Linked DNA regions of Homo sapiens. The protein of the gene in region 1 purifies or fractionates together with the protein of each later gene. This does not show direct contact. Each region holds a gene or a part of one and is shown in the gene's direction. Other genes may lie near its edges.

The links.
Region 2: the proteins of CREG1 (region 1) and THY1 purify together in Homo sapiens (co-immunoprecipitation; one large-scale study listed by IntAct). This does not show direct contact.

Annotation. Positions count from the first base shown.
Region 1 is NC_000001.11:167,547,160-167,550,981, reverse strand, and holds part of CREG1 (protein CREG1 precursor), read left to right. Parts: intron 1-2,860; coding exon 2,861-2,980; intron 2,981-3,822.
Region 2 is NC_000011.10:119,417,405-119,420,324, reverse strand, and holds part of THY1 (thy-1 membrane glycoprotein isoform 1 preproprotein), read left to right. Parts: coding exon 1-274; intron 275-804; coding exon 805-917; 3' UTR 918-2,920. UniProt on the Homo sapiens protein: May play a role in cell-cell or cell-ligand interactions during synaptogenesis and other events in the brain.

The DNA of each region.
Region 1 (3,822 bases):
CATTTTGGCATTCTTTTCTTGTGATGTGCCCCTTTCTGTTCTGGTCACTCTTGGTTTTTTTTCTCTGACCCACTAAAATAAGTATCCCTCAAAGTCAGTTTCCTACTCTTTTGTTCCCTGCAGCGATCCTCAGAAGATTGTATACACTCTCGTTGTATACATTCTCTTCTAGTCCTTACTAGGACTCACTTCCAGATGTGTGTCCATTTCTGACCTCTTCAAAGTTCTCTATATTTCTGCTTGCTGTTCATTTTTGCTTCGTTACTTTGCCACCACTTCAAATTCAACATGTTTAAATCCAGTCCTTCTTCCTCCTGAAACAAGCTGCTTTTGATCTTCTGCATTTCTGTTAGTGGAATTATTGTTTTCTCAGTAAACCCAGTTGGTTCTCACTGCCTCCCCAAATCCCTCAGTTCCCAAGTCCTGACAGTTTTTTGTTGCCTTCTTTACCTCTGTCCTTGCCCCTTCCTCTTCATTCCTGCCACCTCATCCTTAAGCTTATCATCTCATGCCTAAAAGTACTAGAACAGCTCTTACATAGTCTTCCTGTCTGCCCCATCCACCTTGCCTACCCAAATAGATTAACAAAAATACCTGTCACAGCATTGCCCTCTGGCCAGAAACCTTTAACAATACCCAGCTGCCTATAGCTGCGTAAGAGCTACCTGGGATGTTTGTTTAAAATGCATATAGAGGCGGGTGCGGAGGCTCCAGCCTGTAATCCCAGCACTTTGGGAGGTCGAGGTGAGCGGATCACCTGAGGTCAGGAGTTTGAGACCAGCCTGGCCAATATGGTGAAACCCACCTCTACTAAAAATACAAAAATTAACTGGGTATGGTGGTGTACGACCGTAGTCCCAGCTATTTGGGAGGCTGAGTTGAGAGCATCAGTTGAGCCTGGGAGGCAGAGGTTGCAGTGAGCTGAGATCACGCCATTGCACTCCAGCCTGGGTGACAGAGCTTGATTCTGTTTCTAAATAATAAAATGCAGATAGAGGACAGCTTGGTGGCTCATGCCTGTAATCCCAACACTTTGGAAGGCCGAGGTGGGAGGATCACTTGAGTCTAGGATTTTGAGACCAGCCAGGGCAACACAGTGAAACTCCATGTCTACAAAAAATAAAAAAATATTAGCCGGGTGTGGTGATGCACATCTATAGTTCCAGCTACTCAGGAGGATGAGATGGGAGGATCACATGAGCCCTGGAGGTTGAGGCCACAATGAGCCATGATTGTGCCACTGCACTGGGTGGCTGCCTGGGTGACAGAGTGAGACACTGTCTTAAAAAAAATATTGCAGGCCAGGTGCGGTGTCTCACGCCTGTAATCCCAGCACTTTGGGAGGCCGAGGTGGGTGGATCACAAGGTCAGGAGTTCAAGACCAGCTTGGCCAACATGATGAAACCCAGTCTCTACTAAAAATACAAAAATCAGCTGGGCGTGGTGGCACACACCAGTAATCCCAGCTACTCGGGAGGCTGAGGCAAGAGAATCGCTTGAACTTGGGAGTTGGAGGTTGCAGTGAGCTGAGATCGCACCACTGCACTCCAGCCTGGGTGACAGAGCAAGACTCCGTCTCAAAAAAAAAAAACAAAAAAAAATTGCAGTTATTTGGGTTGGGAGTGAAGCCTGTTTCAACATTTTAACCCAAATCAGCATTTTATCAAGCTCTCCAGGCAGGTGGTTCTTAGAAAACAGTGCCTAAGGTTGGCCCACAAATTACAATCTAGACTCCTTAACTTAGGTTGGAGCCCTCTCCACTCCCAACCCCAGGCTCCTCCCGTAGGAAAGCCCTTCTTTCCAGCAAATCAGGTTTCTTGGTACTGTTCATCAAGTCTTAGGCTCACCCAGTTCTGTGTTTTTTGCAGTCAGTGTCTCCTCTCCCTTTAATATGTCCTCCCACCTTCTATCCTGGTTTTGAATATATTATAAAGCTCCTTACAGTTCCTCTATCACTCTGGTCTATGCTGGACATACACATTTGTTTATGTCTGCCTTTTCAACCAGATTATAAACTCACGGAGGGAGAGAGTTTACCTGAGTGTCCCCCTCCCCTTCTTTGGTCTCCTGTGGTGCCTTGCCTAATAGTTTCTAGACAGTGACTATTTGGCTAAATGATTTCAAAGAAATCTCTTTATGACTCTTTGTTTTGATGGGTCAGTGTGAAATGGCAAAATTCTCCACACAAGGCACTTAGAGCTTAAAGAGCTAAATAGTCTAAAATGCGATGTGTGAATTTTGCTATAATCTGTCAACAGTGCCTTTTATGAAGTTGATTTCTGAATAAGAAAGCATTAAGAATTTTACTTGTGTTACTTTTTGAATGTGGGATAAAACTCATTGTTACTAAAGCAGGAATGAACAACTTCTCCAGTTTTGAAATCACATGACAGTTTCTGCTAATGTAAGATAACCAAGTAGCATGATTCAGCTACTTTCTTGCTTAAATCGCGTAGTTAGCCAATTGAGCAACTGTGGTGTTTTTAGCAATGGTTTTGTATAGAGTTTAACCCTTTAAATCTTTCAGTGAAGCCTATAGAACAGCCTTGAATTTGGGTGTCACTATAATTATAATTCTTCTGATGAATATGGAATAAATTCAGGGTTTCAGAAAAAGAATATTGAAATAATTTTTACCAAGTCAGTTCATTTTAAATATGAACCCCCGCACCCCCTTTGGGGAGTGGTCAGGATACTTTCCAAGTATTATTTTCCCCTGAGTGGAAGGTGATGTTTTATGATTCATTGTTTCGTGGAAGACCAGTCAAGCTCTAGGGACATCATGTATGCAACTTTTGAAATTTATTACCTCTCCAGAAACCATATTTCACATGAGAGGATCTTCATTTTCTCTCTATAGGAGAATCCATATGCTACACTGACCATGACTTTGGCACAGACCAACTTCTGCAAGAAACATGGATTTGATCCACAAAGTCCCCTTTGTGTTCACATAATGCTGTCAGGAACTGTGACCAAGGTAAGTAGTTATCCTACAGGAAGGGAGATGGTTTCAGAACACCATCGTATTCACAATGAAAGAATAGATCATTTTTCTTTTGAGACAGAGTCTCACTCTGTCTCCCAGGCTGGAGTGCAGTGGTGTGATCTCGGCTTACTGCAACCTCTGCCTCCTGGGTTCAAGCGAGTCTTGTGCCTCAGCCTCCCTAGTAGCTGGGATTACAGGCACGCACCACCACACCCAGCTAATTTTTGTATTTTTAGTAGAGATGGGGTTTCACCATGTTGGCCAGGCTGGTCTTGAACTCCTGACCTCAAGTGATCCACCCACCTCGACCTCCCAAAGTGCTGAGATTACAGGCGTGAGCCACTATGCCTGGCAGAATAGATCTTTTCAGAATGAAATGCAGTTGATTTGTGATTGCCATGCCCAGTCAGAACATGTTCTATTCTAATAGGTGAAGTAATTCCATGAAAACCAAACGTTTTAATAAGTTGCTTTCATATAGGTGTTAAATAAGATATGACAAAAATGAATGATTTTCTGAAGCCAAGCAGATGTAACAACTATGAAGCTCCTGTATATAAAGTTATTCTTACTAAAGAGCATCTGGTTGACCAAAGCCCTCTACTCTCCATTACATTTTACATTGGTATAATGTTTTTCCATGTCTGGGCTCCTTGTCTCCATATTTTAACAGTGGCTTAAAGCAGAGAAAACATATTAAGTAGGCCAACCAGAGGACTATCCATTACTGAAAACTGGAAGTGAATTTAGTTTGGATCACCTGCTGAAGGGAAGAGGTCAAATACAATCTCAGGAAGAGCAGTGGGCATGGTGTCAGGAGTGCTGATCTGATT
Region 2 (2,920 bases), on another chromosome or scaffold:
CTTCGTCTGGACTGCCGCCATGAGAATACCAGCAGTTCACCCATCCAGTACGAGTTCAGCCTGACCCGTGAGACAAAGAAGCACGTGCTCTTTGGCACTGTGGGGGTGCCTGAGCACACATACCGCTCCCGAACCAACTTCACCAGCAAATACAACATGAAGGTCCTCTACTTATCCGCCTTCACTAGCAAGGACGAGGGCACCTACACGTGTGCACTCCACCACTCTGGCCATTCCCCACCCATCTCCTCCCAGAACGTCACAGTGCTCAGAGGTGAGACAAGCCCCTAACAAGGTCAAGTGAGCTGGGAGAGCCAGGCTCGGGGACAGCAGGCAGTTCCCTTGGCTGGACTAGAGAGGAGAATAGCCCCATAACGCTCTCACCCTCTCCCAACTGCTGCCTGGTCAACTGGGGAACCATTGCCTTCGGTGTGAATGGGGTGAAGAGCTCAGGGCCAGACAGGCAGAGCAGTGTGGTTCCACCAGAACTGTGGGCAAGGCCTTTGGCCTCCCTAATCTTCCTTCTCCCAGCGGGAAAACAGGGATGACACCACCTCCCTCAGCCAGTTTTCTTGTCATGATGTTTAGTAAGGTTTTCATAAGATGATATGTGTGCAAGAGATCAGTAATCTGCAAATGGGAAAGATGGCTGGTTCTGTGAGACCGGGCTGTTCCTGGTCCCAGCTAAGACATTGCAGTACCCACCTCCCAAAGGGAGTACACCCTTGCTTTGGGCCTGTGCCTGCCTGAGTCCTGATCCGTCTTCCTTCCTACCCTGCCCCCGGCCCCCTTCTCTTTCTGCAGACAAACTGGTCAAGTGTGAGGGCATCAGCCTGCTGGCTCAGAACACCTCGTGGCTGCTGCTGCTCCTGCTCTCCCTCTCCCTCCTCCAGGCCACGGATTTCATGTCCCTGTGACTGGTGGGGCCCATGGAGGAGACAGGAAGCCTCAAGTTCCAGTGCAGAGATCCTACTTCTCTGAGTCAGCTGACCCCCTCCCCCCAATCCCTCAAACCTTGAGGAGAAGTGGGGACCCCACCCCTCATCAGGAGTTCCAGTGCTGCATGCGATTATCTACCCACGTCCACGCGGCCACCTCACCCTCTCCGCACACCTCTGGCTGTCTTTTTGTACTTTTTGTTCCAGAGCTGCTTCTGTCTGGTTTATTTAGGTTTTATCCTTCCTTTTCTTTGAGAGTTCGTGAAGAGGGAAGCCAGGATTGGGGACCTGATGGAGAGTGAGAGCATGTGAGGGGTAGTGGGATGGTGGGGTACCAGCCACTGGAGGGGTCATCCTTGCCCATCGGGACCAGAAACCTGGGAGAGACTTGGATGAGGAGTGGTTGGGCTGTGCCTGGGCCTAGCACGGACATGGTCTGTCCTGACAGCACTCCTCGGCAGGCATGGCTGGTGCCTGAAGACCCCAGATGTGAGGGCACCACCAAGAATTTGTGGCCTACCTTGTGAGGGAGAGAACTGAGCATCTCCAGCATTCTCAGCCACAACCAAAAAAAAATAAAAAGGGCAGCCCTCCTTACCACTGTGGAAGTCCCTCAGAGGCCTTGGGGCATGACCCAGTGAAGATGCAGGTTTGACCAGGAAAGCAGCGCTAGTGGAGGGTTGGAGAAGGAGGTAAAGGATGAGGGTTCATCATCCCTCCCTGCCTAAGGAAGCTAAAAGCATGGCCCTGCTGCCCCTCCCTGCCTCCACCCACAGTGGAGAGGGCTACAAAGGAGGACAAGACCCTCTCAGGCTGTCCCAAGCTCCCAAGAGCTTCCAGAGCTCTGACCCACAGCCTCCAAGTCAGGTGGGGTGGAGTCCCAGAGCTGCACAGGGTTTGGCCCAAGTTTCTAAGGGAGGCACTTCCTCCCCTCGCCCATCAGTGCCAGCCCCTGCTGGCTGGTGCCTGAGCCCCTCAGACAGCCCCCTGCCCCGCAGGCCTGCCTTCTCAGGGACTTCTGCGGGGCCTGAGGCAAGCCATGGAGTGAGACCCAGGAGCCGGACACTTCTCAGGAAATGGCTTTTCCCAACCCCCAGCCCCCACCCGGTGGTTCTTCCTGTTCTGTGACTGTGTATAGTGCCACCACAGCTTATGGCATCTCATTGAGGACAAAGAAAACTGCACAATAAAACCAAGCCTCTGGAATCTGTCCTCGTGTCCACCTGGCCTTCGCTCCTCCAGCAGTGCCTGCCTGCCCCCGCTTCGCTGGGGTCTCCACGGGTGAGGCTGGGGAACGCCACCTCTTCCTCTTCCCTGACTTCTCCCCAACCACTTAGTAGCAACGCTACCCCAGGGGCTAATGACTGCACACTGGGCTTCTTTTCAGAATGACCCTAACGAGACACATTTGCCCAAATAAACGAACATCCCATGTCTGCTGACTCACCTGGCTGGAACAACATGCTTACTGCCAACATGTGGGCCGAACCACATGGCCCTGGCTCTGGAATGCACAAGTGGCTTTGCGTGAATCTGCGCTAAGCTATGCAGTCTGCTTTTTCTTCTCAGCTCTGGTAGTTCTTCAGAAATGTACCCTCCAGGCACATCCACTATTGCGAGGGTGAGCACGAAGGGTGGGAGATGCCCATGTCCTCAAGGCATCACTTCCTAAATCCAAAAGCATCGGCAGGAGAAAGGACTGGGGACAAATACTGTCCCTTCGGGAGTAGGGAGGGAACACTGAGGCCCATCCCTGGCTCCTTCCCTAAAAGTAGAGTAAAATGGAAGCGAGCATCCTGGGATTGGGGGCAAGAGGGGGACCGCAGGGTAGCTGTGGGTTCCAACTGCTGTCAGAGTCAGAGAGGCAGCCCCAAGCCAGCCTCCCTGCTTTGCCAGGGAATTTGGGGGAGGAAGGTGACAGCTGCCCAGAGGCTGACTCATCTGATATTTAGCACTGGGTAGGATGATTGTTTCTGAGCATT